Regions from separate parts of the Homo sapiens genome. Here region 2 is linked to region 1. Evidence: fine-mapped expression QTL. Tissue or cell type: whole blood. Region 1 holds a variant in brackets; the other region holds the start of a gene. All regions are shown on one strand. Distances are from middle to middle.

What was found. PIP is the estimated chance that this variant, and not a neighbour inherited with it, causes the effect.
Region 2: CHD4 starts here. The variant in region 1 is fine-mapped to the expression of CHD4 in whole blood (TOPMed, PIP 0.99).

Annotation. Positions count from the first base shown.
Region 1 is chr12:6,624,748-6,629,940 of GRCh38, forward strand. The region is part of intron 1 of LPAR5 (lysophosphatidic acid receptor 5); the gene reads right to left. LOC105369631 (a long non-coding RNA gene) reads left to right here. Exons shown (of 4, transcript XR_007063192.1): 4 at 1,942-2,019. Among named protein-coding and RNA genes, the nearest start is that of LPAR5, 8.6 kb to the right of the region's middle. The variant T/C (reference allele first, on the strand shown) is at 2,930.
Region 2 is chr12:6,604,776-6,609,903 of GRCh38, forward strand. It overlaps CHD4 (chromodomain helicase DNA binding protein 4), which reads right to left and starts at 2,604. Exons shown (of 40, transcript NM_001273.5): 1 at 2,525-2,604; 2 at 1,499-1,676. The coding sequence starts at 1,598. LOC124902867 (a long non-coding RNA gene) reads left to right here and starts at 1,111. Exons shown (of 2, transcript XR_007063193.1): 1 at 1,111-1,220; 2 at 4,340-4,535. RefSeq lists enhancers at 1,175-1,334, 3,075-3,224 and silencers at 1,685-1,734, 1,915-1,974, 2,385-2,484.

The sequences.
Region 1 (5,193 bases):
GTAGCTGGGATTACAGGCATGCGCCACCACGCCTGGCTAATTTTGTATTTTTAGTAGAGACGAGGTTTCTCCCTGTTGGTCAGGCTGGTCTCGATCTCCTGACCTCAGGTGATCCACCCGGCTCGGCCTCCCAAAGTGCTGGGATTACAGATGTGAGCCACCGCACCTGGCCTGGAATTTCATTTTTATAGCTGAATAATGTATTTCATTGTATAATGTTTTGCTCATCCATTCATCTGTCAGTGAATACTTGGATTCTTTCCACCTTTTGGCTATTGTGAATAATGCCACTGTGAACATGGGTGTCTAGATGTCATCTTAGGGAGAGAAGTTGTCTGAGACCCTGAGCAATTATCCCAAGACACCGAGCTTATTACTTTCAAAAGGAACTGTTTAGGCCGGGCGTGGTGGTTCACGCTGGTAATCCCAGCACTTTGGGAGGCCGAGGCAGGCGGATCACGAGGTCAGGAGATTGAGACCATCCTGGCTAACACGGTGAAATCTCGTCTCTTTTAAAAATGCAAAAAATTAGCCGGGCGTGGTGGCAGGCGCCTGTAGTCCCAGCTACTCAGGAGGCTGAGGCAGGAGAATGGCATGAACCCGGGAGGCGGAGCTTGCAGTGAGCCGAGATTGAGCCACTGCACGCCAGCCTGGGCAACAGAGACTCCGTCTCAAAAAAAAAAAAAAAAGAGGGCCGGGCGCGGTGGCTCATGCCTGTAATCCCAGCACTTTAGGAGGCCAAGGCGGGCGGATCACAAGGTGAGGAGATCGAGACCATCCTGGCTAACATGGTGAAACCTCGTCTCTACTGAAAATACAAAAAAATTTAGCTGAGCGTGGTGGTGGGCGCCTGTAGTCCCAGTTACTCAGGAGGCTGAGACAGGAGACTGGCGGGAACCCGGGAGGCAGAATTTGCACTGAGCCGAGTTCACGCCACTGCATTCCAGCCTGGGCGACAGTGAGACTCCGTCTCAAAAAAAAAAAAAGGAACTGTTTAAATTGTTGCAAGAAAATAAGTCATAAATCTGGCTATAACAAGTTTTTTGTTTGTTTTTTGTTTTTTGTTTTTTTTGAGACAGGGTCTCACTCCGTGGTCCAGGCTGGAAAGCAGTGGCTCGATCTTGGCCCACTGCAGTCCTGAACTCCCAGATTCAAGTGATCCTCTTACCTCAGTCTCTGAGTAGTTGGACCTACAGGCGTGTGCCACCATCCCTGGCTAATTTTTAAATTTTTTGTAGATGGCCAGGGGCAGTGGCTCATGCCTGTAATCCTAGCACTTTGGGAGGCTGAGGTGGGTGGATCACTTGAGGTCAGGAGCTCGAAACCAGCCTAGCCAACATGGTGAAACCTCGTCTCTACTAAAAATACAAAAAAATAGCCAGGCATAGTGGCAGGTGCCTGTAATCCCAGCTACCCGGGAGACTGAGTCAGGAGAATCGCTTGAACCCAGGAGGCAGACAGAGGTTGCAGTGAGCTAAGATCGCGCCACTGCACTCCAGCCTGGGCAACAGAGCAAGACTCCATCTCAAAAAAAGAAAAAATTTTTTCATAGAAACGGGGTCTGACTGTGTTGCCCAGGCTGGTCTTAAACTCAGGCTCAAGCAATCCTTTTGCCCTGGGCTCTGTAAGTCCTAGGATTACAGGCATGAGCCACTGTACCTGGCCACAAGTTTTTCTTGTATTTGGTTTTGTTCTCCTTCCAACCACCACCATCAGCAGTTTGAGACTTGTAAGAGATATAGTAAAACAGTTAAAGGGAATAAAGAAATACTTCCTCTGCAAAATACCAGTCTCAACAATGAAAATAATACCAAATGAGACTTAAACATGCTGAAAAGCAAGTAAAACCAGGCTCATTTCTGATACACTCCCCTGCTCCATGCTCCTTTGCTCCATTCACACCAAACTAATACTAATTGTGGACATACCTTATGTTTTCAGGACTCTGCCTTTGTATGTGGTGTTTCTTCAACTTGGAATGCCCTGCCTCCCGTTCTCCAACTGGCAAGCCTAGTATTTTCTCAGGACTCTGCAAAGCCTTCCCTAACCGCCCCCGCAACACAAGGCGGATGTGGTACCCTCACTTGTGCCTCCGCAACAGTGCGCAGGTTTATCAGAGCTCTCCCCATGCATGGTAGTCAGCTGTTCCTGGTCTGCCCCTCCCATTAGACTGTGAACTCTTAGAGGGAGGGGCTGTGGACCATGGCTTATTCATCTTTGTGTATTCTCAGCACCTACCTCTGTAAATGTTAAAAATAATAGGTATCATTTACTGATCATCACCATATTTTAATTTCTATACATAATATCTAACATAGATACATTATTTCACTTCCTCATTGTCCAACTGAAATGTATAAAGTGGGTTATTTGAAGTGGGTTATTAAAAATAACCACTTCCAAAAGTGGTGACATAAACTCATCTTTCACACATACACATAAATATGCCTCCTTGAATCACTTGAACCCAAGAGGCGGAGGTTGCAGTGAACGAAGATCATGCCACTGCACTACAGTTTGGGCAACAGAGTGAGACTCCGTCTAAATAAAAATAAGTAAATAGACCGGGAATGGTGGCTCACGCCTGTAATCCCAGCACTTTGGGAGGCCGAGGCAGGCGTATCACGAGGCCAGGAGTTCGAGACCAGCCTGGCCAACATGGTGAAACCTCGTCTCTACTAAAAATACAAACAATTAGCCGGGCGAGGTGGCAGGTGCCTGTAATCCCAACTACTCGGGAGGCTGAGGCAGGAGAATTGCTTGAACCCAAGGGGCGGAGGTTGCAGTGAGCAGAGATCGTGCCACTGCACTCCAGCTTGAGTGACAAAAGCGAAACTCCATCTCAAAAAAATAAATAAACCTCCTTAAAATTCCCCCTTAAGTGCATACGTAAGCACTTAGTTTGCTGTTTTGAGCCCCTCAATCGTTT[T/C]ATGTATATTTGTTCTATTTCCCCAACTAGATGGTAAGCTCCTAGGGTGGGAGCGCACCTTGCAGACACATTTCACTCTCTGCATTTAGCAGGTCCTGAGCGATACTCATTGGCTGCTTAACAGGAAATCCACCCTCCCCACCTCCTACACCCATCCCGCCCCCAACTACCCCCGCCCACGCTCTAATCCTGTGATAATAGCTCTTGTATCAATCTTGTCCAAATGTATAACTCAGTAAAAGACCACTTCCCTTAAAAGACCTGTTTGGAAACAGCTTGCAAACAAGATTTCAATAACAGTTTACACTATGATTACAGTATCACTTGATCATTCTTTTCTTTTTCTTTTTTCTTTTTTTTTTTGAGACAGAGTCTTGCTCTGTCGTCCGGGCTGGAGTGCAGTGGCTCAATCTGGGCTCACTGCAAGCTCTGCCTCCCGGGTTCACGCCATTCTCCTGCCTCAGCCTCCCGAGTAGCTGGGACTACAGGCACCTGCCACCTCACCCGGCTAATTTTTTGTATTTTTAGTAGAGCTGGGGTTTCACTGTATTAGCCAGGATGGTCTCTATCTCCTGACCTCGTGATCTGCCCGCCTTGGCCTCTCAAAGAGCTGGGATTACAGGCGTGAGCCACCGCGCCAGGCCCACTTGATCATTCTTAACCATTACTTGGAGAACCAGTAGATCCTTCCAATTAGAAAGCATATACTAGACACTGAATGAGTGGATGGATGATTTTCAAAGAACCTCAAGTCTGTCTTTCTTTCTTTCCTTCCTTCCTTCCTTCCTTTTCTTTTTTGAGATGGAGTTTCGCATGCTCTGTCACCCAGGCTGCAGTGAAGTGGCAGAATCTCGGCTCACTGCAACCTCCGCCTCCCGGGTTCAAGTGATTCTCCTGCTTCAGCCTCCTGAATAGCTGAGATTACAGGCGCTCACCACCACGCCCAGCTAATTTCTTTTTTTTTTTTTTTTTTGAGATGGAGTTTCACTTTTGTTGCCCAGACTGGAGTGCAATGGCACGATCTCCGCTCACCGCAACCTCTGCCTCCCAGGTTCAAGCGATTCTCCTGCCTCAGCCTCCTTAGTAGCTGGGATTACAGGCATGTGCCACCACGCCCAGCTAATTTTGTATTTTTAGTAGAGATGGGGTTTCTCCATGTTGGTCAGGCTGGTCTCGAACTCCCAACCTCAGGTGATCTGCCCGCCTCAGCCTCCAAAAAATGCTGGGATTACAGGCGTGAACCACCATGCCCGGCCAATTTCTGTATTTTTAGTAGAGAAGACTGGGTTTCACTATGTTGGCCAGGCTGGTCTCGAACTCCTGACCTCAGGTAATCCGCCTGCCTTGGCCTCCCAAAGTGCTGGGATTACACTGTGCCTGGCTGATCTCAAGTCTTTCTGTTGAAAAAGTTACAATGTACCGGGCACGGTGGCTCACGCCTGTAATCCCAGCACTTTGGGAGGCCGAGGTGGGCGGATTACCTGAGGTCAGGAGTTCGAGACCAGCCTGGCCAACATGGTGAAACCTCATCTCTACTGAAAATACAAAAATTAGCCAGGGGTGGTGGCACACGCCTGTAATCCCAGCTACTCGGGAAGCTGAGGCAGGAGAATTGCTTGAGCCCGGGAGACGGAGGTTGCAGTGAGCCGAGATCGTGCCACTGCACTCCAGCCTGGCCAACAGAGCGAGACTCTGTCTCAAAAAAAAAAAAAAAAGGGCCAAGCGCGGTGGCTTACACCTGTAATCCCAGCACTTTGGGAGGCCAAGGTGGGTGCATCATGAGGTCAGGAGACCAAGACCATCCTAGCTAACATGGTGAAAGCCCATCTCTACTAAAAATACAAAATATTAGCCGAGCTTGGTGGCACCTGCCTGTAATCCCAGCTACTCGGGAGGCTGAGGCAGGAGAATCGCTTGAACCCGGGAGGCAGAGGTTGCAGTGAGCCGAGATTGCGCCACTGCACTCCAGCCTAGATGGCAGAGTGAGACTCCGTCAAAAAAAAAAAAAAATTAAAATGTTAAATAGACCAAGATTATTAGTTGAGCGGCTACTTAAAGGTAAAGTTAGGCGAAGTGATGGCTCACACCTGTAATCCCAGCACTTTGGGAGGCTGAGGCGGGCGGATCACCTGAGGTCAGGCATTCAAAACCAGCCTGGTCAACATAGTGAAAACCCCATCTCTACTAAAAATACAAAAATTAGCCAGGCATGGTGGCGGCATCTGTAATCCCAGCTACTCGGGAGGCTGAGGCAGGAGAATCCC
Region 2 (5,128 bases), 20 kb before region 1:
GGAAAAAGTGGGTCATGCTACAGCTCAGGACAGAGTTCACAGCTCCTGCGCAGCTCCCGGTCAACATGAAAGGCAGCCCCAGCCCAAGTGGCCAATGGGAGGCCAAGACGTGGAACCCAGAATGTTTAGGCAGCACTACTGTTTCTCATGCCCCTCTCAGAAGGACAGGGTCCCCTTACCAGCACCACAACTCCGCCCTCACCTTGGGCAAGGGCATGGAAATCTGCCCCCTACTCTACACAAGGATGAAACCAAGTTTCTCATCCCAACAGCCCAGACTCCATGACAACACTAACCCCTCTCCTAAATGGCCTCAGGTTGAAGTGAAGAATTCCAACTTAAAAAGTGCCAAATGTGAAAGCATCTCTCCCAGACCACCTCAACTTCCACTGAAGCTAAGAAGAGAGAAGGCAGAAGTGAATGATGCTGGATGAGAAACAAAAACAGGATCAGCAGGCTCCAGAATGAGAAGAAAACTAGAAGCAGAAGGAATGAAGAAATGACATGTAGAAAAAAAAATTAAACTAGAAAACATGAAGGTCAAGGAGATGAGTAGGTGACACAGCTAGGGGCTCTGAAAAAGGACACAGAAGAGAAAGACATCTGCTTAGGGGCATGACATCAACCATCATTTGAGGATAGACAACAGTTCCCCCAATCAGACAGGGTGGTTACAACCATACGGGTTTGGCCAGTTCATGAAGCCACCCCAAAACACAGATAGCGTAACCCCTAGCACACCTACACAGACACTTCACACTGCCAGCCTAAACCGCAGGCTACCTCATAGAGACAGAAGCCACTAGGAAAAAAGCCAAAACTATGTCCACTCACCAGGAGGAGGAGTGCCCTCCCTTCTTTTGCCCCTCTTCACTAGGCTATTACATCCTCCCCGAGCCCCCATCACTTCCCCACTCAAAACATTCCAGCAATCTGCCTGGCTGCTTTAAGCACTCCAGATCCTGCTGAGGAGCGCGATTCAAACTTCACACAGTTCAGACAGCACAGAAAACCGGTAACCGATCAGAAGCTAAAAATAATCAGATAGAGTGTAACCAGCACTCCCTCTTTCCTTTCCACAGCAGCAACCACAGGATCCTACTAGCACAGATGCCCGGCTGGTCTTTCAAACAGAATCCTCAACGCCCCCCTCCACCACCACCACCACAAGCCTCCAGGGGTCCCAGCTACCTGCATTCCTCCGAGGACCCACATACCAGGTAATGCCTGCCAGCCCAGAGAGCTCCCTCAACTGGGAACTGCAGAGCATTCCTCAAGACAGAGTGCAGCAAGCTGGCATCTCCGTGCCCAGGAGGCACATGGCTTCCACCCCCCTCACACCAGAGCTCCGCAGAAGGGAACCACTCCCTTCGGATACCCTCCACCTCCGGCTCTGCACAGAGACAGCGGAGCAACACAGCCCTGCCTCACCAGAGGAGTCACTCGGGAGAGCCCCAGATGTCTCCTTCCCGCCATGGGCCCTTGGGGAAGATGTTACCTGGGTGGGGTGGGGGCAGGCTGTTGTTCAAAAGTGCATCCATATCCTCCTCCTCACTGCCCGCCGAGCAGGGGGACGGGGAGCCCAGGCCCGACGCCATCCCCTTCCGCTCCCGGCCAGGGAATTGGCCCAGCTGCTCCTGCCGGCGGCCTGAGGACCTCTACACTGGCCCGAGTCACTGTGCGGGGGAGGGGGGAGAAACACAGAACAGTCAGTGACGCGCACTGTCCCCCTCCCCCACACCCACCCGCTCTTTCCGCCCCCCACCCCAGCCACCCTAGCAGGGCACCCGAACCGCTCAGGCTGAACTTAGTTCCACACTCCTCGGGGGCAGCCCGGAAGCCGGCTCCCCGGCAGGCGCCCCCACGGAGCGAGGGAGCGACGCCTCCGAGGGCAGGCTGGTGCAAGCGCGGGGAGGGGAGACGCGGGGCTGGACCGAGCGGGGTGTGACGGGGGAGGGGGTCCGAGTGGCAGCGGCGCGGGGGGGCCAGGGGAGGCCGCAGGCGGCGAGGCGCTCGGGGACACAAGGTCACTTGGGGGTGGGGGGGCGCCTCCCTGCGCCCGGGGAGGGGCCAGTCCCCAGACAGGGCAGCTCTCCAAAGGCTGTCCTCTGGGACAACTCAGGTTCTCCTCAAGAGCTGCGGGGACGAGGGGGCGTGGAGGCTCGGGCGCTGCGGGGGGCCGGAGGCAGGGACGCGGGGGGCGAAAGCGTCCCACCGGGAAGGGGGCCGGGCCACGTGTCCCGGGGGGCAAGTGATCAAAGGGCGAGGGGGTGGGCGCCGGGCATTGTGGGAGACCAAGCCGGAGGCGGGGGGTCGCGGGGAGCAAGACTCCGGCAGGGTTAGGGCGGGGGCTGGGGAGGAGGCCGGGCGCCCTGCAGGGCCAGGAAAGGAAGGGTCGGCTCCTCTGGGCAAGGGGCGGTCCGCGGGTCCGGAGACGCCTGAGGAAGGGGCGGGTGACGGGATGACCCTCGGGGCTGGTAGGGCCGTGAGGGGCGTCTCTTTGGGAACCCCGCGCTCTCCTCACCCCGGAGCCGCCGCAGGTCGCGCTGGGTCCGGCTCGGTGTCACTCCCGCTCCGGCTCCTCCTCGCCGCGGCCGAAGGGGGGAAAATGGCTCCGGCTCCAGCGTCGCCTCTTAAAGGGCCTGAAACACCGGCCGGGAAATCCCACCGCACAGGCCCCGCCCCCCCACGGACAGCCCATAATAACCTCAACCAACTCCAACCCCCCCCTTCCACTACCGCCACCCTCCTCCCCAGGTCTCCCGGGCAACCCCCGCCCCCTCGTCGCTCAGGCAACCACTGGCCACGCCCCCTTCGCAGCGGGCGCGCGCGCGTCACCTGGGCAACCGCCCACCTCCTGGCCATCCCATAATACACACGGACACCCCCCCCCCCAACACACACACACACACACACACACACACACACACACACACACACAACACACACACACCCTGCCCCCCCACATTTCATACACATATGCCAGAGACTGCTGACATCTCAAAATATTGCAGACCTTTTGCAACTAACCCTCTTAGACATCCCATAATAGACATCCTTTGCCAACTTCTTCTTCACTCTTGGACCTAATGCTAACATCCCATAATAATTCATCACCCCTCCCTCCCCATGGCCATCCCATAATAAGCACCCCTCGCAGCACTTATGCCTCATATCCCATAATATTCAGCCCCATCCCCCACAGACATCCCATAATAACCATCCTTCATCCACCCCCAGTTTGATATCCCATAATAGTCAGAAACTCACCCCCCCCCATACTACAACAACGGACACTCGGCCTCCTCCCACACACATCCCGTAATAATCAGTCTCCCACTTTCTATACTGACATCCCATAATAACTAACCCCCTAGAGCTGCCCTCAGTCCCTGCAGGCCAGGGTCTAGAGGCTCACATCACCCCCAGCCTTCCCTCTTCTAGCTCCACAGCCTATAGTAAGTACCCCTCCTCTATCAAAAAGATAACCCATAATGATCAACAGCCCTACTGTCGCCCCACAGATGGACATCTAATCTCTTTTCCTCTAACACTGGAAAGCTATCCCATAATAATTTTACTCTCCTACCCACATCCTGACATCCCATAATAATTGCAAGGAGCCCGTGGTCAACCAAACATACCATAATACTCCCAACACAACCCAGTGTCACATCCCATAATGCTTCATCTCCACTCTACCACCCCTATACCCTTCGAGCCAGGCATCCCATAATATTCATATTCTTCCCACCCCCATCTCCAGGCGCTGTCAGTCTATTCTAACACCCAGAGCAGGGAGGGCCAGGCAGGCTACCCACGCTTCCTTGTCCCCGCCCCCACTTGCACACACCTTAATCCCTTTCTGGGCCAAAGTAGTATCCTGGCAAAAAGCCTCCTGATGTCTGGGACCCCAGCTTCCCTCATACCATCATTTCCAGACACTCGGGGGCTGGGAGCCCACCTAGGGCCCCACCCAGTCCCACCAAAATCTAGGTATTTTCCAGATGCTTACCTCCAGCTCCTAAGTTTTGAGGAACACCAACCAACCAAAATACCAAGCTGACAGATGAAACATTTACATGAAGTCTAATTCACCCTACAGCATCCCATAATAATTACCAACTCCCATCCAAAGACTATCTCTCAACATTCTAGCAATCCTCCCCCTCACCACATCCCCAGGTCAGGGATCTTTCACCAACACCCCCAGGCCATTCCTGGGGATGGACATCCCATCACGATGTGAACTCAGGTTCCTGCTCTATACACACCAAGAGTGAAGGCCTGCCCTCCCGCTACTCACCACTACTCATGTTCATTCAACCTGTGTTGACAGAGTACCTAGCAAGGCCGAGCTCCGCACCATGGAGAATCAAGGAAGACCAGGGGGCCTCCCTTCAAAAAGCATAAGCAACCAAGCAAACTATGATACACGACAGAATGGTGCCAAGGGAGAACTGCTGAGCACTGTTTCCCAATTTCCTGTTACAGAAAATAAAATCCCACTGGTTCCAAGAGAGAACATATCCCAATAAGATTTATCGTGGTCCTTCTAGAGGCTGGAAGATGATACTTAAAGGATTTATGGGTATAGACCATAGTCAACATGATCTCCTATCTGTTCCCTACTTACTAGGGGATTTTTCTTGGAAAGCAATGTTCATCCATCCAGCATTCCTAATACTGAAATCCTATAATATGTTCATGTCCTTCCTTCTTAAGAGACTCCACAATATACCAGCATTGTTTCCCTCATTCTTGAACACCAAATCCTGCTTATCCTCAATGTCCCATATTTTTCAGGCACTTTCCCATTTTATATCCTGAAGTCTCATAGTATCTCCAATGGCCTCCATCCTCATCTTGTTGGGGCCACATTCTCCACCTCAAAAAAAAAAAAATCTTTAGTTGTATAATGTTCCCCATCTTCCCCTGCCTGTATAGAAGTCAATATTCCAGCGGGGCATGGTGGCTCATGCCTGTAATCCCAGCACTTTGGGAGGCCAAGGCAGGTGGATCACAAGGTCAGGAGTTCAAGACCAGCCTGGCCAAAATGGTGAAACCCCGTCTCTACTAAACATACAAAAATTAGCCTGACATGGTGGCACGTGCCTGTAATCCTAGC